Linked DNA regions of Homo sapiens: regions 1 and 3 are each linked to region 2. The links come from fine-mapping of genetic effects on gene expression. A gene starts in region 2. Each other region holds a variant in brackets. All regions are shown on one strand. Distances are from middle to middle. Region 1 has its middle 7.7 kb from the start of LINC01491. Region 2 holds the start of MYEF2 (myelin expression factor 2). Region 3 overlaps MYEF2 (myelin expression factor 2).

Evidence for each region. PIP is the estimated chance that this variant, and not a neighbour inherited with it, causes the effect.
Region 1: its variant is fine-mapped to the expression of MYEF2 in thyroid (GTEx, PIP above 0.99).
Region 3: its variant is fine-mapped to the expression of MYEF2 in fibroblasts (GTEx, PIP above 0.99).

The regions. Positions count from the first base shown.
Region 1 is chr15:47,848,781-47,859,177 of GRCh38, reverse strand. No RefSeq gene overlaps it. Among named protein-coding and RNA genes, the nearest start is that of LINC01491, 7.7 kb to the right of the region's middle. RefSeq lists an enhancer at 6,966-8,165. The variant A/G (reference allele first, on the strand shown) is at 5,131.
Region 2 is chr15:48,173,296-48,183,692 of GRCh38, reverse strand. It overlaps MYEF2 (myelin expression factor 2), which reads left to right and starts at 5,398. Exons shown (of 17, transcript NM_016132.5): 1 at 5,398-5,616. The coding sequence starts at 5,456. It also overlaps a transcript of CTXN2 not described here. RefSeq lists silencers at 5,157-5,256, 5,427-5,856, 5,887-6,056 and an enhancer at 4,803-5,454.
Region 3 is chr15:48,144,835-48,155,231 of GRCh38, reverse strand. It overlaps MYEF2 (myelin expression factor 2), which reads left to right. Exons shown (of 17, transcript NM_016132.5): 10 at 1,339-1,440; 11 at 2,948-2,998; 12 at 3,290-3,358; 13 at 3,661-3,759; 14 at 4,061-4,132; 15 at 5,861-6,069; 16 at 6,149-6,200. Among named protein-coding and RNA genes, the nearest start is that of MYEF2, 28 kb to the left of the region's middle. RefSeq lists an enhancer at 4,847-5,411. The variant A/G (reference allele first, on the strand shown) is at 5,147.

The DNA.
Region 1 (10,397 bases), 320 kb after region 2:
TATTTTAAAACTAGAGATTTGTATGGCTCATTTAGAACCATTTTACCAGAAAAGGCAGCCGCAGGGAAAATGACTTAAAAGGACATGTGAAAGATGGACTCAGCTTGTCTTCGTGGTAACAGAAATATTGCTATTATTAATATCATGCACTTAAAGAGTGCTGCTTTCCCAAGGAGCTCAAAGCATTGCACATATATTATCTTATTTCTCCTTGCCATATGCAAGGGAGGTAAAAGACAGAAATAGGCAATCTTCAGAAAAAAAAAAACAAAAAAAAAAACACTGTTTACTGAAGTAGCTTTGGGTTGGACTGGAACCAGATCAAATCATCCCTGTCTGGTAGGGAGAGAGAATCATAGTCCTGGGAGCTCCTGACCTCCTGTTGCACTTTGCTGAACGCTGGGGGAGGTACCCCAGCGGGAGGTGAGAATGTCCCGAGAGAGAAACCTGCACCCACACCTTGGGGAGAGACAGTATGCTGTGAATCTCCCGGCTTTTCAGCTGCCTTCAGAATTCACAGCTGGTTTGGGGGTCCCACTTCCACTTGGAATTGCACACCCTTCTGAATGAGAGATTGAGGTGAGTGCCTGCCCCGTGGCATTTTGTTGATCTGACATCTTGGCTTCTGATCTTGGGTGTTCACGCAATTCTCCAGGTAGAGTCAGGAGTGTTCCGCATTACACAGAACCTTGCCCTCTAAAGGATATTGAACACATTTAGCATTAGGTAGTAGAAGAGGCACTGGACTGGGCTCTCCTGTTGCACCAGCAAGGAAAGATTCAATGCAGTGTCACACACCTAAGAAGCAGTCTGTGAGTGCAGGCATTTATTTCACAGTCTACACCCTTGGCCAGAATCTACTGCACACATGTCACACTCATGTTCACTTTGACTGGAATTTGACTCAACAGAGAGCTAGTAGTGAAGGGCTTCAAGCCCACATTAGATAAATGCTATACTATGTCTGAATTGGAGCCTGATGGGGTCACCTTTCTCATTTACAGGTGATGGGAACTTTGGAGAAAGTGAGAGTCTTTGAGGACAAGAAGAACCACTCCAAAGGCTCCCTTGGGTCTGTGTGGGGGAGAAAGCTTTACATGTCAGAATCTGACAGACTTGGACTTCCAATCCCGGATCCACGTGTACTTATCTGTAGGTTCTTGGAAAGCTCTTTAAACAGTCTGAGTCTCCACTTCCTCATCGGTAAAATTAGCATCATAACCTATATGAGGTTGTGGTTTTGAGGCTTTAAGGCACATGACAGGTTATTCCTCATCAAGGGGAGCTCAGATAAGACTGTGGGAAACATATAATGGCTCAAGAAAATTTACCTTTCTGTTTTGCTTCCAGGTTTAGGTAGCTTAGAGCCCTCAATGTTGCCAGGAATGGTAAAATTGAATACATCCCTCTGGGAAAACTCCAGGAAAATGCTGGCATTTCATTACTATTTACTGTGAGAACATTTGTTCATTTGTTCAGTTGGTCAGTGAGAGAACAAATATTTAGTAAACTTGTTAGGCACTGGGCTAAATATTACAGGTAACATGATGGAAAAAGACCCAATCCCTGCCCTCAAGGAGTGGCAGCTGTTGTATTTGGTTGATTTCCCCCCAGTTGATGATATTAAAACCCCACGTGGCCTGAGTAGAGTTGCTGAAAGAGCGGTGAGAGAAAACAGCAAATGCTTGTCTGAGTTCACGTAGCCCTGGGAGTTGGCAATTCCAATCACAATTACAGTCTTTTCTGTCAGGGTTGACCTTTAAGGAGATTGCCTCAATTATAAAAGGTCAACATCTCCTGGTTCTGGCACAAGCAAGTCCTGAGCTCGGTAATAAAATATAGCCAAATAACCCCATGGAGTCTCTTACCTCTGCCACCCAGCAATGGCCTGTGGCTGTTAGACTTCTTTGGAACATAGTGGTCATGTAGCTGTCAGATGCAAGGTGTGTACTGGGAAATTTGTATTTACATCTTAATGTCAGTCAGCCTGTGGACTTTTAAATTAGCAATTCAAACTTTGGTTTTATAGCTAGTTAGTCATTACGCCCAAACAAGTCAATTTCAAGGATTATGCACTTCTCCATACAAAAGTTAAGGTATGTGAGTTAAGGCTATAGTATGTAACTTTTAGAGGACTCATTCCTCCAGGTATGAGGGCAAGTGGGCAAGAACATGCTGTATAAATTCCTGCTTTTCATCTTGCTGCCTTGACACTTCTGGATTCAAACTCCAAAAAGATAAATTACATCTTTTGATGTAATCTGTAAGGATAATAGTGACTCTTGACCTCATTGTATTGCCCTGCTGTGAAACTCTCCATTTGTGTGGACTACAAGACCCCATCTCTCCAGACCCAAAGAGTAGAAGACAGACCAGGTTGAATATTTTCTTCACAGGGACAAGACGAAGAAGAGTTCATAGAGAACAGTGAGCTGGGTCAGACTCATGGCGAGTCTGCGGAACTGACTTCCCACCTGCACAGTTTCTTCTGTGAACCAAACCCAGCTCTATCTTCACATCAATTCCAGAGAGTTGTCCTGTGTGTCACCAGACAGGAAAACTGGTTTATTCTTGGGCCAGTGGCACAAAATCAAGCTGGGGACTAATTTTTCTTGATTTTTAAAATTTTATTTTAATTATTGATTTATTGATTGATATAGGGTCTGGCTCTGTAGCCCAGGCTGGAAGTGCAGTGGCATGATCTCAGCTCACTGCAATCTCTGTCTTCTGGGCTCAAGTGATCCTCTCACCTCAGCCTCCCAAGCAGCTGGGACTACATAGGCAAGTGCCACCACACCCAGCTAATTTTTTAAATTTTTGGCGGAGACAGGGTTTTGCCATGTTGCTCAGGCTGGTCTCAAACTCCTGATCTCAAGCAATCTGCCAGCCTCGGCCTCCCAAATTCCTGGGATTACAGGCGTGAACAAGTGTGCCCAGCCCAATCTGGGAACTAATTTTAAAGCATCTTTTCACGTAGCATAGATTTCCTCATCAGGGGACTGGAATTTCCAGCTCTTGTGCCCTTGATATTTGAGTTGCTTTTTAAGCTCTAGTTTTCAGTCACTGGAAGATCTTTTGATAAAATACTATTATCGCACTTCTTTGCTTACTCCTAGAATAATGCTGATAGCAGGACACTTTCTGATATGGTGGTTAGACATTTGCATTGGCTTTTGGATAGTATGTCAGTTGTTAAAATTTGGACTTTTCATAACACAGAAAAGAGCTTCTCACCTCTGGGCCACAAGGTTTATGGATGAATTGAAATTTTTATAATTATATCCAAACAATTTTAAGTATATACATTTTTCTGGGGGAAAAGAGCTGATGTTCTTGTCAGACACTCAAAGCAGTCAGTGACCTAGAAGAAATGAAAAACCACCAATCTAAACAAGGTTTCCTTAACTTCAGTAGCTGGTAGGTCACTCGGAGAGATTAAAGGTCAATTATAGCTGGAGACAGGAGTAATAGGGAAGGTCCGTCTGCAGTAAAGGAAGGTGATTCTCAGACCCCTAGAAAGTGTGAGTATTGTCATCATGGGCCTGGAGCCTGGTTCAGATGGAATGTATTTTGGTTTTGGTGCCTGTATTCTGGCTTCACAATATACATCATCCCGTTGCTCTGTGATGAGTTTTTTATGGAAACACCTTGTCCAGAGAAGCACCTTACTTACTTCAATTACACATTAATTATAATTTCATGGGCTTCTTATTGCCAAAAAATAGGAAAGCCTTGCCAATATGAATTGTATTTTATTCTGGCCAGGGGTAGTTTTACTTTTATGGTATCAGAGGAACACCATTTTTGTACCCAGTTTTCTGTGTAAATAGTAATGGAAAGTAAAAAGCACAAAGCCAATGAGGAGAACTATTAGAACCCAAATCATACAACAAAAGGCTATGGGGAAAAGAAGTGATTCATAAAATGAAAGAGAAGCATTTAAACCCTTCCTCAGTAATAAGCTCAGAGAGATTAGAAAATATATTCACGAAACAAGATTTGAATGCCATAAAAAGACACTGAGAGAACAAGAAAAAAGAAAAAGCCTCTGCTGATTAACATACAATTGCCAAAAGCAACCAAAAAATCAATAAAAGAATTAAAGTCTGTGGTATTTCTCAGAAAATAGAAGAAAAAGACAGAAATGGGAAAAAAATGCAAGAAAAGATAAGAGACATAGGGAAAGGAAACATCCAGGGAGTGCATATTGGATTAATAAGCTTCTTAGAAAGAAAGAATTAAGAAAACAAAAGGAAGTAAAAAATCAATAAAAAAAGGAATTTTCTCAGAGCTGCAATACTGGCACCATCCAATGGAAAGGACTTACAAAGTGCTGATTCCAAATAATAGAAATAAACCTTTTCTAGACACAGCCTTGTGAATTCAGAACACCAGGGACAAAGAGAAGACCTGCAAATCTTTCAGAAATTATTTTCCCAAATCCCTACAAAGAAAAAAGAATGCAATTGGCATCAGTCTTTTCAAAAAGCAAGGTTGGAAGGTAGAAGACAATGAAGCAAGAAACTTCAAATTTGACGGAAAATTATACTCAAGCTCAAAGTTTATGTCCACTGAAGTGGGAGTTCGGAATAGAAAGCCTTTTAGACAGTAAGTATTTAGAAAATGTACACCTCATTACTGATAAGTTTGAAATATCAGGTTGAGAAAAGTGGAGGAAAAGGGGCAGCTGAGCAGCTGCCAGAGAGAGTTGCCAAAATTAGGCCATGGCTTTAGACCCGTGGGACACCACTCCCACCTCCATTGAAGGCTGAACATGCAGTTTGTCTCATGGTTGCTCCTGGGCCTGGGCACTAGGCACCCTAATACCACTGTCTTGGGGTCTACAGAAATTCATCACTCCAGCCACTGCCGCCAACCATACCATCCAGACTTAACACTTCATGGTGCCCACTTCTTTGAGTCATTAGTTCTTAATTTAAAGTCTTCAGTAGTAAAATTTTATAGGCAAATCCTAGGTAACTTGTTCATGGCCTAGATGCAAAGGATATCAGGGAAGTAGACTGGGGCATTTTCAGCTTTCAATAGAGGAACTTGGGCTTTGACTCCAAAAGACGCACCCTGTGGAAAATTCCCCAGCACAGAAAGAGAGTTTAGGTTCTGAGTATAAAA[A/G]TATTTACAAATGTCTTTGCAAGATAGCTTGGACATGTTTGGTGATATGTTCAAGGCAAAAGCACAAACTGAAATGAAAAAAAAATTAGAAACTCCAAGGAAAACAAAAGAAGGAGAGTAATGGTCCAACCGTGAAGCAAAGTCAAATGTAAATTGATTTTATAGAATTAATTGAGTATAATGGGAAAACACACTTTTAGCTTTGATGCTAGAAACTTTTCCTACCAATGACTCAAGGATCCCAAGGTGAGACCTACAAAGAAGAGGTAATCCTGGCATGCTGTTCAATACAGGAATGAACAGCATTTGCATGATCATGATAATGTAAACAGGTTTTTGTTTTTGTTTCCAATGTTTTCTATCAGTTTACACAAAGTACATTTGCTCATGATTGCAGGACAGAATGTAAACAACTTTGACAATGCTAATGGATGGGTGACAGGGAGGCATGTAGAGGGTGGAAGGAGAAAAGGTAGAGGAAAAGGTAGGATACAAATATATTCATCCTACATTTAAGCCTACATTTGCATGGAGTTGATTTTTTGTTTCGATTTGTTTTCTATTTTAGTGTTGGTACTGCCTGAATTTCAGTTTTAGAAGATATCAGCAAAGATCTGCAACAGAAAACTATATTTTCAAACTAAGCTCCTTACTTTGACAGAAGTTGTTGAGTTCGAAATTAATTCTTGTCTGTAGATCAATGGATTGCATAAATGGCAGATCAACCTTGACAAGATGGAACAAATACAATCATTAGTGAAGTCCTAACAATGCAGAACAATTGACTGTGAATTTAGGTCAGTTTGTCTGCCTTGAAACACTTTTACTCTATACTATTTCATACTTGACTAGTCTTTACTGTGTGCTTGACGTATTTTGTAATTGTTTTGTAGGCAATTTGGAATCGCCAATATAAAAAAAAATGTATTTATTTAAGACGTGAATGTGTAGAATATGGACAGCATAGTTAACCAGAAGTTTTAACATAGCACAGGAAAGAAGGGCATAAGTATAGTAAGATTTTGGAATGGTACCAATGGTTAGAATATGGGGGTTGAATGTGCAGGGAGGAGAAGAATTCTGCTAAAGTATGGGAGTGGAGCAGCGCTGTATTTCCAGAAGACAAGAAAATCTGGATCTGGAGTCAGTGTTTCACAGTTCCTTCATAGCAGGGACTTCAGATTTGGCAGGCAATGTAACGGGCCCAAGAAGGGGACCTCCTTATGCATGCAGGGTGGTACCTGCCTTTTCTTTTTCTTTTTTTTTTTTTTTTTTTGAGATGGAGTCTCGCTCTGTCATCCAGGCTGGAGTGCAGTGACACGATCTCGGCTCACTGCAAGCTCCGCCTCCTGGGTTCAAGCCATTCTCCTGCCTCAGCCTCCCAAATAGCTGGGACTACAGGTGCCCGCCACCACACCCGGCCAATTTTTTATATTTTTAGTAGAGACGGGTTTTCACCGTGTTAGCCAGGATGGTCTCAATCTCCTGACCTCATGATCCACCCGCCTCGGCCTCCCAAAGTGCTGGGATTACAGACGTGAGCCACTGTGCCCGGCTGTACCTGCCTTTTTAATCATCAAAAACTCGACTTCCAACAGACTGGGTTTTGGGGTTGCTTCCTTATTTCCATGGATCATTCCTTGTGTCTGTAAGAAAGATACAGCAGCATAGGCATATTTTATTTCCTTGGAAGTTAGTAGACTTGTCCTCTTTTGTGGGGTTTCCTGTATATTCAACAGGGTGAGAGACTTAGGGAGAACTCTAAGTTTGCCTGGTAAGGAATTTACTCTTCTTGCCAACTAGAAAGCACAGAAGAATCCAGTTTCTATAAGCTTCCCGGGAGACACATGCTATGAGTAAGATGCTTTCTAGTACTCCCACTTTTTCCTAGTGCTTCCTCTTTACTTCAATGTTAGATTCATAATTCTTTTTTTAAATTATTATTATTATTATTATTTGAGACAGAGTCTTGCTGTGTTGTCCAGGCTGGAGTGCAGTGACACAATCCCAGTTCACTGCAACCTCTGCCTCCTGGGTTCAAGTGATTGTCGTGCCTCAGCCTCCAAGTAGTTGGGATTACAGGCATGTGCCACCATGCCTGGCTAATTTTTGTATTTTTAGTAGAGACGGGGTTTCTTCATGTGGTCCAGGCTGGTCTTGAACTCCTGGCCTCAAGTGATCTGCCTGCCTTGGCCTCCCAAAGTGCTGGGATTATAGGAGTGAGCCACTGTGCACAGCCTTAGGTTCAGGATTCTTAACCATTTTTGTAAATATTTGAGAAGAAGCTCTGAAGGCAAATACTAAGCTTGATGGATAGTTCCAGTGCCTCCAGCTTGAATCCTGTTGCATTCAGGTGAACACACATTCCCTTGGTCATGAGTTAGGCAGCCATACCCAAAAACAGTCAGGCTAATTTCACACACTCACTCCTGGTCATAATTTTAGTCATCAAAAGACTGTCCTTTATGTTTTTCAAGATTCCTTCTGAAACCTTTGACTAATCATGCCTCTTAGTTTATGTTGTTAATGTGGGATAGGTCAAAACATTTGCCCATTCTTATTTGTGAGAAAGGTCATGACTATTACTACTTCTCACCGTACCCTTGACCTCTACCCTATCTGGCTCTTTTTAATCATAGTGTTCATGACTTGCCAAGAACAGAGTTCTTGGTCTGTCTAAACTGAACTCTTGATCTTTCTTTTTGCTGTTCCTTCATCTGTCTTCTTCTGCTCGTGAAGACATCTTCATCTTTCCAAATGCTGATGCTGGGAACTTGGAGCAATCCTTGATCTCTATTTTTTCATCACTCACTCTATACAATCTCTTCCAAGTTCTATAGATTTTATTTTGAGTCCATCCACTATCTAAGTTTATATTCCCTCAAGACTAAGCCACCTACATCTCTTTCCTAAACACCAAAAATAGCCTCACTAGTTTCTTGCTTTCTTTCTTGGACCCTTGTAGTCTATTCTGCACATGATTGTTAGAGTAATCTTTTTTAGAAACAAACAAACAAAAAAACCCCCACACATTTGTCATCCTGTCACTGTAGAGCTTAAAATCTTTCAGTTGGCAGTCAGTATACTTAAAGTACAAATTTCCTGACATGGTTTGCAGCAGTTTTTGATATGGGCCTTGCCTCCATCTCCAACCTCATCTTGGCCCGTTCTCCTCCTGACCCCAAGCCCTTTGTTTATATCAGCCTCCTTCCATTTAGTTGAATGTGGCCAAGCTCTTTCTCACTTTGAGGCCATCACACACCTAAAAAGTTCTTTCTCTTGGTCTTCACCCGGATTACTCCTTCCTGCCTTTCAAATCTTCCTTTCATTACCGCTTCCTTAAAAATGCTCCCTGTGATTTCCAAGGTATACAAGATCCTCTGGTCATACTACTTGCACCATAGAATTTATCACAATTTGAACTGACAAGTTATTGTATGTGCACGTATGTATATTTGTCTAACATCTATCTTCCCAGTCAAGCATGTGTTCCATACAAGAGGGGACTATCTCATTCATTTTTCTATTCCCAACAGAATACCTAGCATGAGGTAACTGCAAAAAAAATTGTTGAGTGTTTGAGTGAATGGAGCTTAGCCTATTGAGGGCCAATTACTGTATCATTAGAGTCCTCAAACATGTGGTCCTGAGTTTTGAGTACTCAATTGAGGAGCCACATACAAATTTGAGGTTTGACTTGACATTAGTGAGGATGAGGGTGAACCCTGCTACAAACATGCAGAAAAGAAGGGACATGGGCCAGTGGGATTGGGGAAAGGCAGAAGTAAGAAAGGATAAAGCAGAGGCCAGGCTAGACTTGGATTTGTCACATCTGTGAACAGCTGCTTGCCTTTAGAGCTGTGTTCTTCTATAAAACTATAGCATGAGTCATGTATATGACTCTATATTTTCTAAGTCACATTATACAACAAAAAAAAACTAATGAAATTGATTTTAGTAAATTATTTTAATTTATTCAATATTATAAACGATTACTATTTCAACATGTAATCAATGTAGAAAATTAAACAGATATTTTACATTCTTTTTTCATATAAGTCTTTGAGATCTGCTCTGTACTTTACACCCACAGCCCATCTCAATTTAGATCAGCCATATGTCAAACACTCAATAATCACAATTGGCAGGCTGATGACTACCATACTGGACAGAGCAGGCTTATAGGTTCTTTCTTATATTAGTCTACTTGGTTGCTATGACAAAATACCATAGACTGGGTGGCTTAAGCAACAGACAATTGTTCTCACAGTTATGGAGGCTGGGTAGCACATGATGAGGGCATCAGTATGGCTGAATTCTTGGTAGGGGCCCGCCTCCTGGCGTGCAGACTGCCATGTCTAGTTGTGACCTGGCATGGCAGAAAGAGAGAGAGAACTCTGGTGCCTTCCTCTTCTTAAAAGGACATTAATCCCATCATGGGGGCCCCATCCTTGTGACCTCATCTAAACCTAATTACTTCCAACTACCTTCACATTCAAGATTAGGGCTTCAACATAGGAATTTGGACATTTGGTCCATAACTTCTGAAAGGTTTATTGGCACTGACCATGAGCTTGCCCTGATTTTCTCCTAGTGGGATATTATCATTCAGGTAGGATACGATTCCTTGAGTGGCAAATTCCAAGCAACTTTAATTATCCTCCAGGCTGAGGGTGGTGTGTAAAGCTGACATGTAAAAGAGGAAGCTTTTGTACGGCTCCAGATCAAAGAACTACAATGGAATGTTCAGGAGGCAGATTGTACTTAGAAGTTTAAACAATCAGAACTTTCAGGAAACAAATGAGATACTCTCTCTTGCACTTCTTGTCATTAGAAGATCCAAGTAGCAGCTGATGTCCACTTGGGCCAGGATTTGATAATTCAATGAAGACTTCTATCAGACGATCCCTGAAGTTCCTTTGAATCATGATGTTCTATAATTTAATTAAACTTGAAACTTTCCTCCAACAAAACATACTATTTTTCTTTCTTTTCTTGACCTTCATTTAGAAAGCATTAGCAAATGCTTTAGAAAGCATTTTATTTCCAGAGCAAACGAGTTTTCATCTATAGCTACACATACATAGAGAACTGGAGAACTTAGGCAACTACTCTCATAATTTTAGAGAAAAAATAGTGAAAACATTTGAGGCAAGGGATATCCCTTTAACCACTTGTTTTCAGACTGCAGTTTTGTTAGTATGAACTAGGCCTACATGAGTTTTTTCCCTCCATAGCATGTTAGACTCATTTATAATCTGTATAAT
Region 2 (10,397 bases):
ACATACTTTATCTTATTTAGAAGTTCAGGCATTTTTAAATCTAACACACACAATGAATGAATGGATTGTTAAAACAAAATAAAATGGAGACCAGGCTTGAGAACCCTCGGAGCAGACAAAACCAGTTAGGCCATGTAAGAGTAACTTAGGTTATTTCTTGTAAATACCTCTGACAATTGTAAGTAAAACTTAAGTTGTCTTCCAAAAATGGTATAAGATGATGAATTTTAAACCAATCTGTTGTCTGAAAACCTCCATGGTAATAACAAATCATCGTAAAAGTTAAAGTTTCATTTTTGCTTTATAAGCCAGCCTATAATGCCATGCCTCTGAGCTTCCACTTAGCATTTTCGGTTTGAGATCTCTCAGTTTGTAAGTTGTTGTTTTCTATCTATAATTTACACATTTTAAAACATTTGGCCTGATTTTATTTTTCAAAGCACGATTGCACACATAGGGTAACTGTCTCCTTCATATGTGGGTACCTCAGAAAGCATGCCAAATGGTTTAGAAACTGTGCAAAATATTACCTATTGACACTTAGCATCGTTTTTGCCCTTCTAAGTTCTGTCTCCTATGAGACATTTATCAAACTCTGTTGCTAATAGTATTTCAATCTAAATTCTACCAAGGAGAGGCACTGTTACAAAATTTGCAAGGAGGAAGGGAAAGAGAAGCCATCAATTTCAGTAGTGGCTGCAGGTAACTTTGTGGGTATCAGCAAACGGCAGATGGAATGTTAAGTCAGCAGATTCTGGGCACAAGGAAGTCTTGAGACTTATCTTGTTGTTACAGGTCAGAGGGATCCTTGGCCATGGTTCCTTGTGACTCCTGCTCTTCCTAATATTTCAAACTCTAGCAATAGCTCCTGGACCTTTGCCCTCTCAGCCTTACTAATTGTTGTATAAGCCTCTAAGACTTTATGCATTAAATCCTTTCCTAGAGGAAACATCTATAGTGTTTGACTGAGTCAAAAGCTTTCTTTTCCTGACTGATAAAAATAGCTAGAAATGAAAATCATGGAAATATATTTTGTTTATATACATACTGCATATTGCATATACACACATATATATATTCTGCATGTTTAAACACTTTGTGAATTGAAACATAGTAACATGAAATCACTTCAATCTACCATTTTGCAATACACCATGAAAAAATATCACATCAGTATACTACTGAAAAATCATAGCTTTCACCAAACTAGGCTCATAAGCAGCCATCAGGAATGGTGTGACCCTTGAGGAAAAGGGCTGTAATACGGTACAATTTTTGGATTCTGTTTAGTTTCATGAAATGGAGGATCACAGACAGAAATCCAATGGCAATGCCTGAAGGCAATGGAGGTTATTTTCTGAATTATTTGAATAATTGAGGTAAAAGTGGAGTTTCTGCCTGGATTATTCAGATAATTGTCTTAATTCTAAACTTCACTTAGCTAGCTGGTAGAGACCTTTGTATAGGATGTATTTTTGGAATGCTAAATGCTAAAAAAAAAGAACTCCTAAAGTAAGCAGAGCTGTGGTGTAATGAGGGTGTATTGGGGGTGATACAGAGATACGGAGGGAGAGAGAGAGAGAAAGGAGGAAAAGAGAAGAAGAGAGAGAATGGTAAATAGCTAATCGTCAGAATAAGATTAAACTTTACTTTCTACTTGATAGTAACCAATGTCCACATTTTCATCACAGAATGAACTTTCTATAAAAAGGGAAATACATATGTAGATTTCAAATATAAACCATAGTATTTTAAAAAGTTACGAATTCCTTTTTAAGCTTTAAAGAGGTAAATTTTTACTTTGTAAGGTTTAGAAACTTCATGCCTTCAAATCCAGCAATTTATATAGTGAAGCAAATTGACTTAAAAATTATACCATACTTTTTGTTTTACTTCATATTGTTGGTCTTTGCCGTTTAATTCTTTTTTCTTTTTTGAGTTTCTGAATACCCCAGAGAAGGTAATCTATTTATTATGAATTCTAGGGCTAGAATATCAGCACAAATATGGAAGTATTTTTAGAAGCTATTGTCACCATAGAAATGTTAGCCACCATTTTTGTCTAGTTTCTTTTTCTTTTAAATTTTATTATTATCCCTAAAACTTAATTCTTAAAGACAAAATAAATTAAAAAAAAGAAGAATGATGACATCCATTCTCTTCTTCATTGGTAACAGAACCCTGGGCAGTAAGCCCAGCCCCCAAATTATTTGCCAACCTCCCCCACAGATGAGTGTGTCATGTGACTAAGTTCTTGCCCATAAGCGGAAGTGTTGTGTGAGACTTCTGGATAGGTCCCTTTTTTTCTGGACTCCTTCTGACCTACAATGCCGACAAGGTGCCTCGATCTCCAGCAGCCATCTTGGGTCATAGGGCAACCTTAAGAATGGAAGCCTCACACTAGGATGGCGAAAGATTAAGGTAGCAGGAACCTGACTTCACGATGACTGTGAAGCTACTATATATCCTCTGGGATGCTCCTTCTGCATTTATTTTACTTAAGAGAGTAAAAATGTATATCTTGCTTAAGACACTATTATTTCTAGTTATTGTTATTAGCAGATGAACACAATTCCTAAGTGATACATATATTAAGGTATTAATTGAAAATATTTTGTGATTTCTAGGATTAGATTTCTAGATACGTGTAATAGCTTTTCCCCTATCCCGCCAGGTACACACACATAAACATGCATTCTAATTTGTAAGAAAGAAAACTAAGTGATTATGTGAAGTTGTACCAGTAATATATTTTGTGCAATTGCAAAGGATAATGCTTTTGCAATGTGAATCATGGGAAAATAAGAATTTGAGCATCACTTAAGAATTTTTCAATGTACCTACATGCACTAAAAAACAAACAAACAAAAAACAAAAAACCAAGGCCGGGCGCTCTGGCTCACGCCTGTAATCCCAGCAATTTGGGAGGCCAAGGCAGGCAGATCACAGGGTCAGGAGATGGAGACCATCCTGGCTAACACGGTGAAACCTGTTTCTACTAAAAATACAAAAAATTAGCCGGGCCTGCTGGCGGGCGCCTGTAGTCCCAGCTACTCAGGAGGCTGAGGCAGGAGAACGGTATGAACGCGGGAGGTGGAGCTTGCAGTGAGCAGAGATGGCGCCACTGCACTCCAGCCTGGGTGACAGAGCGAGACTCCATCTCAAAAAAGACAAAACAAAACAAAACAAACCAAAACAGTAGAGAGGAAGACAAGCAAATACAGAAATGGAATTCAGCAACAGAATATTAATAGTTTTTTCTTTATCTTTTGCAATTAATAGCAAGAAAGGAAGGAAAGATCAATCTATTGAGCAGTCAGATGGAATGGTAAAGATTAATCATTCTCTTCCCTTCAGAAGTTGCCTTAATTCTTTGTCTTTTAAGATCCAGCTCTTTTATAAGGCCCTCACCAATCTCTCAGTAGGAATTAACCTCTGCTCTTTATCAGGACTAGAACCAAGCTACAGCGGGTGAGGCATTTGTCTTGGGTACAAAAGTTAAAACTCAGTAATCAAGATAAATATTTTAATGGAATATTTTAATTGGCAAACTAAGGCATGTGGGCCAGTCTCCTGTTTTTGTAAATAATTTTTTAATTATACTTTGCTTTTATTTGTATTATAGCACTTAAATAGTACTTTTTACATTAGCCCTCTCCCAACAGGGCTGTACTCATTTTTGTATTCCTCATGTACCTACTACTCTGTTTGAAGCATAAAGGCCTCTTAAAAAAATCTTGCATTGAGTTGATTAAAGGATTTTTGCAAGAATATATTGTACTGGTGATGGTGGGGTTCAATTTTCATACTGAATTCAACAATAGCAAAAGAATAACAGAATGATGACTATTTTGAAAGTACTTATAATTTAGTGCTGTGGGAAAAATCACTTGGCTTGTCTTTGACTAAAACCCTGCTGAGCTTAGGGAGATAGAGAATTGTAATATTACATTATGTTCATATAGCACTTTTTCCTACATAAAGTGCTTTCTTTTAATCCTCACCTCAATCCTGTAAGGTCGGTATTGCTATCCCTATTTATTGTAGAGAGATTGAGAAATGAGGTGACTTGCCCAGGGAGTTATGGGCAAAAAGAGGCAGAGCTGGGGTTCTAACCCAGATTTTGTCTGTCACAATTGAATGCCCTTTCTGCGATTATAAATCTTATGTCTCAGAGTTGAATGAGAAACAATTTATACAGCAACTACAATAGCATTCTTATCATTAAAATGTTCTGATTATGTGTGTGTGTGTTTGTGTATGTGTGTGTGTGTATGTGTGTGTGTGATGAAGTAGCTGAACTTGGTATTTTTCGGTAGAGGGTAGGAAACTACACATTGAAAAGCCGAAGATGAAATTATGTTATTTGAGTATTACTTTCTAACTATAACTTTACCACTGATGTGTGTATGATATTCTGCAAAGTGACTAAACTGTACGTGTTTGCTTCTTCATGGAAAAAAAATTTGGGAAGGCATTTAAACTTTTCAGCTGAAAAAGGTTATGTCAATGTGAAAGATTATAGTACTCGAGAATTAGGAGTTGATTAAATTTAACGGTTTCCTTTTCATACTTAGGGGGAAAAATCTACGACTGTATTTTAAAACTCCATATGGCAATTAAATTTGAGAGCGTATAACTAACTACTTCACTAGAATTTCCATCAGTATACAATAAACACACAGTCAAAACCTCAAATGTCCATTATTAGCCCATCTAGTAGACGATATTTTATAATTATGGATTCCCCATATTGATTGATGTCCAGAGAAAAACTGCAGTCTTCTCTTACTAAGCTGATAGTTGAGTTCCTGGGAAATCCTCACCCCCTAAGAACAAATAATTCTCAAAGAAATTCAAAGTCATTCCTTTTGGTGAATTGCAATCAGTCATCAATAACTATTTATGGAATGTCCGAAGGGTGCCTAGGCATTGAAATGGCAAGAGACTTATATTTGCTTAATTCAAAGGATTTCTAAAGGCAGTCTGAGGACTTGCAAGAAGTCTTTAAAGATGCAAAGTGGTGTGTTCTTTAACTGCCCCTACCTGGAATGAATTGAACAGTCTGGGTGTTAGGGCTTTGATGTCTAATCCCGCTTTGCAAGCGAAGACTCCACTGGTGCCAAGCGACAGGCGGGCTGGTGGGCAGACATGGCACCACCACCGGGGGCTTTCAGGACTGGTCCAGCCCTCCCAGGCAGGTGTAGGGCCGACTGCAGCAACAGCGGCCCTGACCCCAGCTCCCATGGCTCCCCTCCCCCCGCACTCCCACCCCCCGCACCCGGCACACACCATCTCCCAGTCACCCAGTCTCGACCGGTTCTCGCGAGATCCGGGTTACTGAGCGCTCGGGGCCTTTTCAAATCGGGATCCGTTACCGCTTCCCCGGCAGCCGCCATTGTCGCGCTCGGAGCCCCTCAGCTCAGGCGGCCGAGGCGGAGGCAGCGGCGGCGGGATGGCGGACGCCAACAAGGCCGAGGTGCCCGGGGCCACTGGTGGCGACAGCCCGCACCTGCAGCCCGCAGAGCCGCCGGGCGAGCCGCGGCGAGAGCCGCACCCCGCGGAGGCGGAGAAGCAGCAGCCGCAGCACAGCAGCAGCTCCAATGGCGTTAAAATGTATTGTCTTTTCCTCCGGGAACCGGGGCGAGGTGGGGGGCGGGGAGTCTACCGGGCGGCTAGAGGCCGGGCTGTGCCCCGATGGGGGACAACCACCCCCAGACCCCGGCCCGCCCCCGGGCCATCGGCTTCCTGAGGAGCAGGTGCAGCTGGGCCGCTCCCAGGCCCTTCCCCGCCCGCCCCAGGCCTGGCCGCCTGTGGTCTGGGAGCCGGGGCTGGGGGCCCGGGGACCAGCGCTCTTCCCTGATTTCTAGCCCGAGACAGCGAACACCCCTCTTCCCTGACTTTGGTTAAAGAATCTTTGAGCAAAGCTCAGCGACCGCCACGGTTTGCAGGAAAATGGTCCCCCTTTAAGGACCAGTAGTTAGTGTTCATCACTAGGGAGTATCTAGGGATGACATCATCGGACATTTCCTCTTAACCACCGAGAACATATTTAAAAGGAATATTCCTGGCTTCTTTCTGAGCTTCACAAGTTTAGTGTTTTGTTGTTTTCTAAAGTGTATGTTCATTTTTAAACTGATTTATACCGAGAGGAAGTTTAATAATGTGCTGTTAGACTCTATGTTTTGTGTTACTCTTGAATTGGCTAGACGTACTTTAAAAAGGGAAATGTGCGATGTGCGTGGCTTCCCTTCCCACTGGGTAATGTGCGTCAGCTGTGGAGAGTATTTTTTTTTTTAACTCAGTGTATGATTATCTTAAGTTTGGTATAATAGATGGTTAAGATTTTTTTTTTCCCAAATGAAGGAAGACTTTTAAGGTCGCAGCTGTCACCAGTGCCTATAAAGAATTTAGTTGACCCCAATCCATAATAATTTCTGGTTCTAGGGAAATGTTATGCTCTCCTTTGTTCCTGTCCTGTGGGAGGATATGAAGTTAAGCGCTTACTTTCATATGCCTACCTCCTTAAACCTGAAGTTGAAAGTATGTTAATAATTAAGTGAAAACATCCTTTTCCTTCTCTGTTATGCCTCAGAGCAGAAAGCAATAGATATATGCTCACAGTAAAATAGACAAGGGAAAGGTCTTTCTGACCTTTGTATAAGCATGTTTGAAATTGTATGGTAAGAACTGGACCAGTCTGTGTAAAAGTTGGTGGCAAAAAAGATGGGGTAGCTCTCCCCAGCTCTTTGACACTCTTGCTCTCAAATGAGTTTGAACAGGATCGGCAGCATCTTCTAGGAGAATAGAGGTGCAGGTATAAGAGATTGGAACTTAGTGGAGTTTATTCCTGGATGAAGAGTGGTGCACCTCAGTAATTGAGGAACCAGAAAGGGAATGAAGTGCTTTCTACCATGCTTGCCAAAATGTGGGCTTTCTGGAATTTGGCATTAAAAATAGAAATGAAAACCGGTGGAATGATAAACTTAAAAATATGTGCTATTCATATCTAAACACGAGTATACATGCCACCTTTTCTCCTGAACAAAAAGTGCAGCCTTGAATTACAGAGAGAAGCCCTCCTATACTTGGGTATGATTAGTTTTGATATAGGGGAAGTTTGGTATCTAAACCTCCATCAGATTTTCTATTCCCTTCTAAAGTCTCTTCATGATTTAGCAAGACAGGAAAAGAGAAAGGAGAAAGGTGGAGAAAGAATCCTTTTCTAATTTAGGAAGAGAAAAATATAAGGTGAAGAAATGAAGAAATATTACTAGTAAATACAGATTATTTCCATATTGCTTATAATTCGCCTCTCCCTTTCTCTTTTTCCCAGAAGTTGAATCGAGTCCAATTTACTCTCAGGGATTTCTCTTACTGTCTATTCCATAAGAAGATTTGTGATGGTCCAGCATGAGTCATTCAAACTGAATAACTAGCGACCTAGTCCTTTTTTTTTTTTTTTTTTTTTTTACTTCGTGAACTAGTAGGAGTGGATAACAACCCCAATACATAAACCTTGAGTTGATTACCATATACTTTTAATAATAAAAATAATTCATTGTTGATTATAAAAATTACCATAATATTGCCCCAAATTATGTATTGGTTGGAATTGAACAGAGTACTGCTTGTCATCAGGATTGAAATAATATTTGCTGAGGTTAATCCATAGTTATTGAGGGTGGGAGACCACTATGTCTTATTCTTCTTTGTATTCTTAAGGCCTAGTAAATATTTGTGGAAGAAATGCAGAAGTGAACTTTCATGCTTATGAAACTCATATACAGGGAATTTAGTTTGCATATTCACACCTTTAGAAAAGATCCGTTTTCCAACTGTAGTCTTCTTCTTTAACGCCAAATGGTATACTAGCTCTCCTTTTCTTAAAAATGAATAGGAGGGAAAAGAGCAGTATTATTATAACTTTATTATTCATGTGTAATTAAGTATAACTTTGGAGTAGGTAGAGATTGAGAGTTATATTAGGGTACTATAAAATATTAAGCATTGGAGCAAGGTAATGTGTTCTTTAGCTGAGTGATTTTTATTAGGAATAAAGACTAGAACTGTTTCCCCCAGCTTTATTGAGGTAAATTGACAAAAATTGTATATTTTGAAGTGTACAGTGTGATGGTTTGGTATACAAATAAATTGTGAAATGATTACCACAATCACGCTAATTAACGTATCTGTTACCTCGCATAGCTACCATATTTTTTGGTGTTGAAAATACTTAAGATCTATTCTTTAAGCAAATTTCAAGTATACAGTAAATATGTTAAGTATAGTCACTATACTGTACCTTAGATCTACAGAACTTACTCATCTTATAACTGAAAGTTTGTGCCCTTAGAACATTTCCCCATCCCCTGCTGCCCTCCACCTCTGGTAAACACCCTTCTACTCTCTGCTTCTGAGTTTGACTTTTTTAAAAGTCTGTGTGTAAGTGAGATCATGTAGCATTTGTCTTTCTGAGTCTGGCTTTTTTCACATAGCCCAATGTCCTCTAGGTTTATCTCTGTTGTTGCAAATGGCAAGATTTTGTTCTTTTTGTAAGGCTGAATAATAATATTCCAGTGTGGATGTGTTGTGTAAACATAAAATATAATATATATCATGTTTCCTTTAATCATTTATCTGTCAATGGACACTTAAGTCGTTGTTTCCATATCTTGGGTATTGTGGATGATGCAGCGAACATGGGAGTGCAGATATCTCCTTGAGATAGTGATTTCATTTTCATTGGATATATACCCAGAAGTGGCATTGATGAATCATGTGGTAGTTCTGTTTTTAATTTTTTGTGGACCCTTGATGCTGTTTTCCATAATGGCTGTACCAATGTATATTCCCACCAGCAGTATCTAAAGGTTCTTTCTCCACGTCCTCAGCAACAGTTGCTATCTTTTGACTTTTCGATAAGTCATCCTAACAGGTATGAAGTGATATTGCAGTCTGGTTTTGAGTTGTATTTCCCTGATGAACAGTGATATTGAGCACCTTTTCATATACCTTTTGGCCGTTGGTATGTCTTCTTTGGAAAAATTATCTGTTTGGATCCTTTTCTCATTTTTTAAATTGGGTTGCTATTGAGTTGTATGGGTTCCTTATACATTTTTGATATTAATCCCTTATTGGATATATGGTTTGCAAATTTTATCTCTCATTTCTTAGGTTGCCTTTTTATTTTGTTGAGTTTCCTTTGCTGTGCAATAACTTTTTACTTTGATGTAGTCCCAGTTGTTTACTTTTGTTTGTGTTGTCTGTGCTTTTGGTGTCATATCAAAAAAAAAAAAAATCATTGCCAAGGCCAAGGTCATGGAGCTTTTCTCTTGTGTTTTCTTCTAGGAGTTCCATGGTTTTAGGTGTTATAAGTTTTTAATCCATTTTCATTTTGTTTTGTATGTGGATATCTAGTTTTCCCAATACCATTTTTTGAAGAGACTGTCCTTTCACCATTGTATATTTTTGGTGCCTTTGTCAAGGATTAGTTTACCATATATTGGGGATGTGTTTTTGAGTGTTTGTTATGCTCCATTGGTCTGTGTGTCTGTTTTTGTACCAGTACCATATTGTTTTGATTACTATAGATTTGTAATATAACTTGAATCAGGTAGTGTGGTACTTTTAGTTTTTTCTTCTTGTTTAAGCTTGCTTTAGCCATTTGAGATCTTTTATGGTTCATACGGATTTCAGGAATTTTTCCGTTTCTGTGAAAAATGCTGTTAGAATTTTGATAGAGATCACATTGAATTTATAGGTCATTTTGGGTAGGAAGGACATTTTGACAATATTAATTCCTCTCATCTGTGAACATGGAATATCTTTCATTTGTATTATTTTCAATTTCTTTTATCATTGTTTGATCGTTTTTCAGTGTATAGCTCTTTAGCTTTCTTGGTTAAATTTATTTCTAGGTATTTTATTCTTTCTGATGCTATTTTAAATGAGATTATGTTCTTAATTTTTTGGATAGTTCATTATTATTAGTGTGTAGATATGCAGTGGATTTTTGAATGTTGACTTTGTATTCTATAACTTTACTGAATTTGTTCTAATAGTTTTTTTGGTGTTGTCTTTAAAATTTTCTCTGAATAATTTTCTATATAAGATCACATCTTCTGCAAACAGAGTTAATTTTACTTCTTTCTCTCCAATTTGGTTGCCTTTTATGTCTTTTATTTGCCTAATTGCTCTGGCTGTGACCTTCAGTACAATGTTGAATAGAAGTGGTGAGCATGGGCATCTTCTCTTTTTCCTGCTCTTAGAGGTAAAACCTTCAAATTTTCACTGTTGAGTATGACATTAGCTATGGGGTTGTCATATATGACCTTTATTGTGTTGAGGAACATTCCTTCTATACTGAATTTGTTGAGAGTGTTTATCTTGAAAGG
Region 3 (10,397 bases), 28 kb after region 2:
ACTTGCCTGGTACATTTTTCCTATTTTTTTACTGTTTCAGGCATGCCCCTTATAAAGGGTGTTATTGCTGGGCTTAGACTTTTTAAAAAAATCACTTTGATAGTTTTTTTCACCATGAAATTGAAGAGTTCAATTTCTTCACATGTATTGGTTCATTTGGATTAATTTCCATTATATTGTGTCTTATTTTTTTGTCTTACAAATACTTATTTTACTCCTATCTTGGATTCTTCTGGATATTTTAATATTTCTGTGAAGCCTGAAGTTAATATAATTATTCTTTTATGTAATAGTAGAGTGACCTTTGGATACAGTCACTTTCCTACTGAATTATACTATCATTGCTCAGCATTTTAGTTCTGTATTATTAGTTCTGTACTATTTTTTTTTCTGTCCTGCAAATTAGACAATGTTATTTACCATTTTCTTGTGTCATCACTCCTCTGCTTTTATAGACTCTGGCACTAATTTTTTTCCCCTGAAGCATATATGTTAGAAGCTCTTTTAAGTGAGGATCTTTTATTAGTAAATTCTCTCAATTTTGGGTTTTAAATGTTTTCAAAGATAGTTTAACTTGTATAAAGATTGATAATTATTTTCTCTAAGCACTTTGAAAGTATTCTACAGTCTTCATGTTTACACTGTTGCTATTAAGTCAGCTATTTGTTGAATCGTCCTTTCTTTATAAGTAATCTGTCCTTCCTGTGCAGTTTGTGCAGTTTGACAGCAAAGACCAAAGTCTTAAAATCAGCTACATGTCATTATGCAAGCAACCTAAGGTCTCAAAAATTTCCTCTTCTATGGACAATAGATGTGGAAACACTTAAGGTGCCATATAAATATAAATAAATATTTATATCAATGAGAAAACTAGGTAATATAATATTTGCCTTATTCAGTGTTATACTTTCATGGTTATTGACTTTTTAGTTTGATTTGAACCATTTAAAAAGTAATTATCAAATTTTAAGTGGGTCTACAAATTTGGGCAAGATACTCATTTTCAGATATGTGTGCCATATATAAGGTGATATGATATTATTCAAAATCCTCTAGGTATTTTATTATTCCTCTCAGTGTACCTTTAAGTGGGGTATAAGGTGTACTTTGTATTATATCATGTTTTATTTCATAAAACACTTCTCATTAATAAATGGTTTTATAGTCGGGCTTCAGTGTGCTACTTTCTAGACAAAAACAAGAACCAGTGCTTTTATATGAAAATTTGCAGAAATTTTACAGATACTACTACAGGTATATAGCTTTTTAAAAAATTTTATTGCCAATTAGTTAATCATATATGGATCTTTGTAATGATTGTTCTCATTTTTGTTTTAGGTGGTCTTGGAGGCATTGGGATGGGACTTGGTCCGGGTGGACAGCCTATTAGTGCCAGCCAGTTGAACATAGGTGGAGTAATGGGAAATTTAGGTCCAGGTGGTGAGTATTCTAACTTCCTCTTTTCTTTTTAAATGATACATATGCTAGCTAATAAAGCCTCCATTGATGTGGTCTGTAATAATGTTTAAAGGACTCTAATTAATAGTTAGATATTTACGGTGTCACTTCATTCTGAAAAAGGAATGAAACCTTGAGCACAGCTAACATGAAAGAGATAGGCAGAAGTCAGGAGGGTTTCTTTGGGGCCAGCTATGTTGTAGCTAGCCTTTTAGCATTTTGGATTTTGAAATGTCTTGAAGGCAGAAGGAGAATATATCATCTATGAACAGTATTTATGGAGTAGCTGAAATGCTACCATATCATAGGCAGCTAAAATCTGTTTATCCATTTGGGAAGGTGGCTTTTCAGGTAGTTATTTGGCTGCTCACCTGGAAGAACTCACAGTTCATTTTTAGAGATTGGTTTTTAAACTTTGGTGTTAGGACCCTTTTATATTTTAAAATTTGTTGAGAACCCGAAAATGCTTTGTTTATGTAGTTATAATTACCAGTATTTACTGTATTATAAATGAAAAATTAGAAATTAAAAAAATTACATATTAAAAAATGATAAACTCATTACATGTTAACATACATAAAAGTTTTAAGAAAATAAACTATTTTTCAATGCAAAAAAGAAATTGGTGAGGAGAGTGGCATTGTTTTACCTTTCCACACATCTTTTTAATGTTTGGCTTAATATTGCTGTTATATCTGTTTCTGCACTTTAGTTTTTTGTGATATTGTACATCATATAGTGTTTGGAAAATTACACCTTAAACTCAAGAGAATGAGGGTAAAACATCAAATAATGTCTTAGTAGTATTTGGTGACTTAAATAGTTTTGACCTATTGAACCCTCAAGAGTCCCTGGACCATACTTTGTGAATTACTGTTTTAATTGATGGACTAATAAATGCTATCAGATTCCTATTTTGTCAAGATGCTGTAGTCACACTTTAAATTATGAGGCTCATTATCATAATCATTCTGATCCAAACAAGTTTTCTCCCTTACCCTTAGACTCTCACACCTACCTACCCTCTCCTAAATACATACTATTTATATTTTGAAAATTTTTACTGCTCTTTTAACTGCGATGTTTAGAGAGTCCTTACATTCTGGCCTGATCTCTAAATCTGCTGTAATGCTATTTCTGTGTCTATGCTGGAAAAAAAAAATCATTGATAGTAGTATTTCTGTGTTTATTGTGGAAAAAAAAGTGAATGATTACCTAGTTCAAGATATTCTCTAACTGAATGTTGTGGGTGTTACTAGTGAATTTTGCTTTCTTGTCTGATAAATGTTCAAAGAAACCCTTTTGAAGATTCATGATTAGACAGCTGCTATGGCATAGCACTTTAAACCATGCCTCCTGTACCCTACCGCTTCTCTAGTGTTTCATTGTGGTTATACCAGTGGTATCTATTTTGCTATAATGCATTATATCATCTTTTAGTCATAAAAATAAAATATACTTAAAGTACATACTGTGTATTTTATTTGAGGTATGGGAATGGATGGTCCAGGTTTTGGAGGAATGAATAGAATTGGAGGAGGTATGTATAAAGATTTGTTTTTTTGTATGTACCCATCACCATTTTTAATAAACTAGAAACTGTGTTGAGAATTCCATGAAAAAAAAGTCATGGTTTATTGTTGGCTCATGTTCTAAAGGCTGCTAGCAGAAATTGAGCCTGGTACATACTTAAAGGAAGGTGATGTGTTAAGAAGTAGCTGCACAAGGTAGGGTGGATGAAGAGCTTACTGGTGAGATTTAACATTTACAAAACGTACCTTTCAGCTACATGACTGACAGTTGGATCTCAAAATTAATCTTTATTCCATAGGAATAGGGTTTGGTGGTCTGGAAGCAATGAATAGCATGGGAGGATTTGGAGGAGTTGGCCGAATGGGAGGTAGGTAAATGTATGCAGTGGGAAGTGTGTGCATATTTAGTTTTCCCTATTATTAATATTTCCCCCCTATAACTTAGGAATGTGTGCTAAAAATGTCTTCAGAAGGCATATAGGCACTAGGGGATAAGGACAGGCCTGGGGAATGGGGATGATATGTGTGGCATGTGAGGTAAATTGGGTAAATGACAGACTATTTTATATTTGTGACTTACGCGTCTTTTCATAATTTAGATACATTCCTGAATGTTTTCAACATGTATTGATATATTTGAAAAGGTTAATTTGTTGCACAATTTTTTCAGAGCTGTACCGTGGTGCGATGACTAGTAGCATGGAGCGAGATTTTGGACGTGGTGATATTGGAATAAATCGAGGCTTTGGAGATTCCTTTGGTAGACTTGGTAGGGCTGGCTGCATACTTCTCCTTTTCTTTTTGTAGGCTATAATTTTTGAAATTTGGTTTCTCTTTTTTTGTGAAAAATCAGAAAATCATAATGTTTTATACAACTTATTACCTGAAGAAAACACTTTAAGGATTTTAATATGCTAGCTCTCTTTTTCAACATCTTACATATTTGAACTCTATTTTCAGAAGACTTTATGCTTTTCATTTATTGTAAATCAGAGCACATAGTACCTTGGGAATTTTAAAGTATGATTATTTAAAATTAATTAGTATATTATCTTTCCATCCTTGTTTAGGCAGTGCAATGATTGGAGGGTTTGCAGGAAGAATAGGATCTTCTAACATGGGTCCAGTAGGATCTGGAATAAGTAGGTTTAAATTTTACTAGAATTTATTCAGTAATATTTGAGTGCTTGCAAAGACTTTGCAAGAGTAGTTATCGTAGTATAGTAATACTTTGTTCTTATACGTTAATGTGTCTTGCTATAATTTGAGAAACCTTGATAATTGAGCAAAGCCTTTCTGTTTGATTATTGTTTGAAATTTCTAAATTAACTGTTTGAATTTTACTTTTTTGATATTTCTAAACTATGTGTTAACAGCCAATCCAGGAACCTTCTTTCCAACTAAGGAATCTGGGGATTTCTCTGATCATGTTTCAGGAGCAACTTTTGCTTTAGCACCAACTTTGTTTCCTTGCTTATTTTCTATAATAGCTATTAGTGACTAGCTTATTTTATTTGTAAACATCTATGTCTTTTGGTAAATGCAGATATAGCACTCTTAGGCATCTCCTGAGCTTGAGTCAGGCTAAGGTTGAAAGAGGTACTTAATTCTTTTCCTCTTGAACCTTTCCCGTAATAGCATCAAGAGTAGTTGCAACACTGGGGAATGCTGAATCTCCCATCCGTCTATTTCCACTCCTACCTTTTAGGCCTTATATTAAGCCTGAATACATGGATTATTTATTTATTTTTTTAACCTCTTTTGCTTACTGGGACATGTCTCTGAGCTCTCCATACTTTATTGACTTCCTTTAATTGATCAAATTTCACAAATAGAAAATACAACCTATTTAAACTATTCTAAAAGTAAATTCTAAAATCCTGTCAGCTTAAGACGTCTACTTCCATTGTATCTTGCTCCTTTTATTCCTCCTTCCATCATCTTTTAGCCTCAGCCATTTCCTATTAGTCCTAACTTCCTTACCTTCCTCTTTTATCTCAGTGTTTGTACTTCTGTTTCCCTGATTTTATATTGGTTATTCACAAAAAGCCAATTTGAGGGTGATGTTAATTTTTAGAATTTCCATGTTTGGGGATATTACATACAAGACAAAAGGTTTGATAATGAGTAAGATGGGAGCAATTGAAAAGGACAGG[A/G]AATCGAGTCAGTGCATAAGAATGAAGTAGGTATGAGTTCGGAGCTAAATTCTTAAGCTCTGGCTAACGGGAAGTGATAGCATTTTTTGTTCCCTTGACAAGTTCCGTGTAATATTGAGATTAAAAGTTATGTTTTGCTATGAGTATTGAATTACCATGAGAATAAAAACTGGGAAACAGAGGTGAAGATGCTGAGGTGAAAGATAAGCTAGGAAAGGAGTATTTACTTGTAGGAGAGTATGATGAGAGCGGCTTGAGTGCTAGAGTTGTAATAATTTGCATTTATCTCTGTGTATCTTTATTTTAGCAATTATTATGCTTGATATTATTGGAAAATAAAAATAAGGATCAGAACAACTGTCCTGTTATTGGAAGCAGTGATTGGTAGAGGATTTATATATTTATATGATATATTTAGTGATCAGAATACAATTTTATACAGTTATATATGCATAATGTATTTATACAGTGGCTAGAATTTCTCAGCTAACTAAATGTATATGTAAGCAAATTCTGTTCTTTGGAAAGTTGTTATCTGTATGAAAATAATTTTATGTTTTTATATTATTTAATTATATAAACAAATTAATTTCCCCCTTCTTTCTCAAAAATGTTTATCTCCTTTTCCTCCTTTCTCCTCTTCTCCTTTTCCTTATGTTTTTGAAACAAAAACACAAAATTCCCAAATCCCCCCGTCCTTTCTTGAAAATCCAGGTGGTGGAATGGGTAGCATGAACAGTGTGACTGGAGGAATGGGGATGGGACTGGACCGGATGAGTTCCAGCTTTGATAGAATGGGACCAGGTATAGGAGCTATACTGGAAAGGAGCATCGATATGGATCGAGGATTTTTATCGGGTCCAATGGGAAGCGGAATGAGAGAGAGAATAGGCTCCAAAGGCAACCAGATATTTGTCAGAAATGTAAGCAAATAAATATTAAGGATAATTCAAATTCTTTTTTTTCTTGTATATATGTTACTAATACCTCTTTTCATTCTAGCTACCTTTTGACTTGACTTGGCAGAAACTAAAAGAGAAATTCAGTCAGTGTGGTAAGTATGCAAATGACTGCAGATATGTTGATATTGATTATGGAGGAAAATTGGTTTTAAACTTTTATACACTGTGTTTAGACCTTTGCCTGTCCGGATGCCTATTCCTGGATAGTCTTGATAGCGTGCCAGGTCTAATTCCACTTCAAATAAATGAATTATTTCACTATCTTTTGACTTAGAGCAGTGCTATTACTACTAGGTAATAACAAGGTTTAGGTAACAAGGTTTAGGATATACCCTATCATTGTTTTCTGTTAATAAAGATAGGGCTTATTTTATTACCTCATTTTAAAAAGATAAATATATTATCATTCTTTGCATTAAACTTTTTTTCTCATGAGAAATATTAATAAATGGTATATTTATTTCCTTGTTTATAGTATAGTGCAGGGGATTATCAGCATAACCAACTGAGATGCTGATGTCCAATTGATAAAGGAGTTAATAGGTGAGACCCATTCTACATACACTGTATTCCTACCCAACACAGGAAACCTAGCTGGTAGCATACAACCCACTGTCAGGAATGCCTTGGACATGGGTACATTTTGGTTGCCCTTCTTATTCTTTTATAAACTGTTCTTAACTATAATGATACTACTTATACAACCTTAATGTGTTCCACAGGTCTGTGGAAGATTAGGTGGTTTATCACTTTTAAAAAAGAGCTTTTTATATACCATACTTAACTTTTGTTACAAATATCTTAATTGACTAAATTCTCACTTTTTCTTTCTTTTGCAATAATGAGAGAATTCATGTGAGTGTTATAAAGTAAAATATTTTTTGCTAGTATTAATATTTTTCTGCTATTGCATGGAATCTCAGCGACTGTAGTCACAATAGGAAATTACATAAGATAGCATATATATAATTTCTGAGGTCATGAAGGAATAGGTTTAGTGTTCTGTCACAAAATAGCCTTTGTGGCCACTACAGAGATAATATTATCTCATATTTCTTTATATCTAACTCTTTTGTAGCTTTTATTATATTAATAGTTATTTGTTCAAGTTTTCTTCCATCCTACGTGGAAGCTCTTGAAGGCAAGAATTGTCTTTTTATCTTAGCTCCTTTTATTGCCTCTGTACATATGGTAAGAGTTTATGAAAAGTTTATAAGTTAAGCATTCTGGGTAGATGTTCATTTATTCAGTAATTTATTCATTAAATCCACAAACATATTTTTGGCAGTCTGTTAGGCCCTAGAATTTTGAAGGTGAACAAAGTGAGATGCTCCTGCCCTCAAAGAACATACAACATGAATTTGTCTAGGATGTTCTGTTGACTCTCTTTCTTGATCATCCTTTTATTTTGAACTAATCAAAAATTCAAGAAAAAGTTGTTGAAAACAAGTTAACTGGTTAATAGTCACCACTAAGAGAAAGCAAAATAGTAAAGTGGCCTTGAGGTATTGGTCTTCTTTGCAGGAGTAAGAAGATCTACCAGAATGAGTAAGCAGTGTCTGGCCATGAATCCTGTAGACTACAGAGGAAAGAATGTATATAGGGTCTTAGTGAAATACATCAAATGAGGAACAGTGGCAGCAAGTATAATCTGTGTTGATTTAGTTTGAGTGAAAAAAAAAATCTCCAAATGAGATATGACATTATGTTAAAAGTAGAAATGAAACTTAGCAAGATAAAGAGCAAAGCAGGACAAAGAAATGACAATGAAAAGGTGACCATTGTTGAGTTGACTGTTCTTTATTCTTTGTAGGCTGCTTTCTGTTTGAGGTTAGATATGAGCAAGGCTTGCAGCAAACTTCAAGTGTTTGGTGGGCTTCTGGTTGGAGTGGCATTGTTTTGACATGAGGACATCAGCAATTGCAAGACATTTTTTGAAAGGAAAAAACATTCAAATCTACATAGAAAATTTTTATAGTATGTTAGCCATATAAAATAATGGTTAAATTATTATTCTTTACTTTGCTATTTTAGCTCTATTCTTATAATCCTTTTTCGATTATAATTATATTTTAAGATTAATGATTTTTGTTTTATCAATTCTTTTGTAAAAGTTTCTGACTCTTAGATTTTATATTAAGATAATACCATATTTACACAATTCCCTATATCTCCCTTATTTTTAACCTTGAACTACATTGATGGAAAAGTTATAATAATATAGAATTAAGTGTCCAGCTATTGACAACTATACAAATTATCTAGCTAGTATGAACTGAACCATCCATTTTTCTGCCATGTCACTTATTTATAAATCTTTTTCTTAGTATGAGACATTTCTTTTTAACATGCTGCAAGCCAGTAATGGCCTCTTGGGCAGTAAAAGGCAGTCTTCTGTTGTTGTTTTTCTTGTAAGCCCAAAGAGAGTAAGTATATTCTCTTGCTTGCTTCTTAGTAAGAATCTAGTAGTACTCCTTGCATCTCCCATAAACAATATCTGTCAGTAAAGGGTGCCACTGGCAACCCCCTCTGCTTATAAATTATCTCTAGTGATTAACTGTTCTTGATGGAGTAATTACAAAGGCTGAGTAAATGTTATATTATGGGTTATATTACCCTCAATAGAACATTTTCTCAGCCTTTGTAATTCAGAAAAGATTGTTTTCAGATCTTTCCAAATATAACAAGATGAGAAATAAGTGAATATAACTGCTATTTTCTGGTTCCATCAAGCCCCTAAAGGTAACATTTTTGACCCCAGGCTGGTAAGATACACATCTTTCCTGTAGCAAAAGAGATCTATCTTTTTATCTTGCCTTGTGTAATTCCTCAGAGAGATGCATTTTCAAAAAGGCTGAGTATAAATAAATTAACCTATTTAGTATTGGACCCCACATCATTTCAGCTTGTGCTAATAGGGTCAAATGGGCATAGTCTTTTAAATGTGCTCCCATGTCATCTGTATACTTTAGCTGCATTCTGGCCTTCTGGCTCAGTATGATGCAAGACTATAACATTTTAGAACTTCAGCACAAGGAAAACCCATTCTCAGTTATTCCTGCTATAAGCCATATAAACAGATATAACTTTGTTCCACAGATTTCCATTATGTAGTATTTCTACATCAGTGTGCTTGTCAACTGCATGGAAAATGGAGGCTTATGGTAGATTTTATTGATTAAAGTACTTGCTGCTTCAAGCATTTTGAGTGGACTTTAGAATAACTTAACAGTAAAATTGCAGTAATAGTACAAATGATATATGATGAGCATTCATTGATAGGCTCTGTCTTTTGTTTGTAAAGAAACAACAGAATACTTTGCTTTTCTATCCCTTATATCCTTATTATGTTTTCTTATCGTAGAATTTCTGATTTTCCTGTTTTCATCCGTGGTTGTGTTAACTTCATGTAGGCAGTAGATTTTATTGAACATCCTTTAATTTGGTCTATTTTTACATGTGTTTTTATACTGGCATATCCCAAAATATACCCCACAAGATGTTTATAGACTGGGTTAAATAAAACAGAAAGGTTTCTTTTACTGTGGGACAAATCCTTTTTATTACTAGTATATGTAACAGCAATATGTTTGATTATTCTGTGATACTGATTTCTCATGGCATACTATTTTGTCCTGTGCTGTTGCCAAAATATCAGTCCTGTTTTTGTTTTCTTGGAATCGTACAAGATTATTAGATATTTAACTTAGTTGAGGAAGTTCTCAGAGCATGTAAAAAGTCAGGCAGGTTTGATTTTAATCAGCTATTTGAAACTAATTTTTTTCTCCTCAATTATTTATCTTTAGAAAAGAAAATATTTCAGTTGGTGTTTTTATAGGATCAGGAAGAAACTTAGAACATCTATAACTCTTTCTGGTTCTGTACTGCTGGGATTCTTTTTAGGGGAGCAGTCTAACCATAAAACAAATATTTATGGGCTACTGTCCATATAGCTTGAACATCAGAACTGTGAGGAAGTTGAAGTATCTTAGCTGAGGGAACTTGTCAACTAGAAAATTTTTGAGGTCATTGTGAGGTCAGGAATTTGGAGGTCTGAGTGCTGATTTCTAAACTGAAAGAGGCAATTTAAGAGAAAAACAAAAAAGAGAAACTGTCCTGAAAGATCGAGAGACAGATTATGCAAGAAATAGTGACATATTTTCTTTTGAGGTTTTGAAGATTTCTTGCTTAGGTGAACTTTACTATTGCTGATAAATCTATGATGGGATACTTAAGAAAAACTCTACGTTTTTAGGTAAAATTAAGATAAGGAAGAACCTTTAACCTTA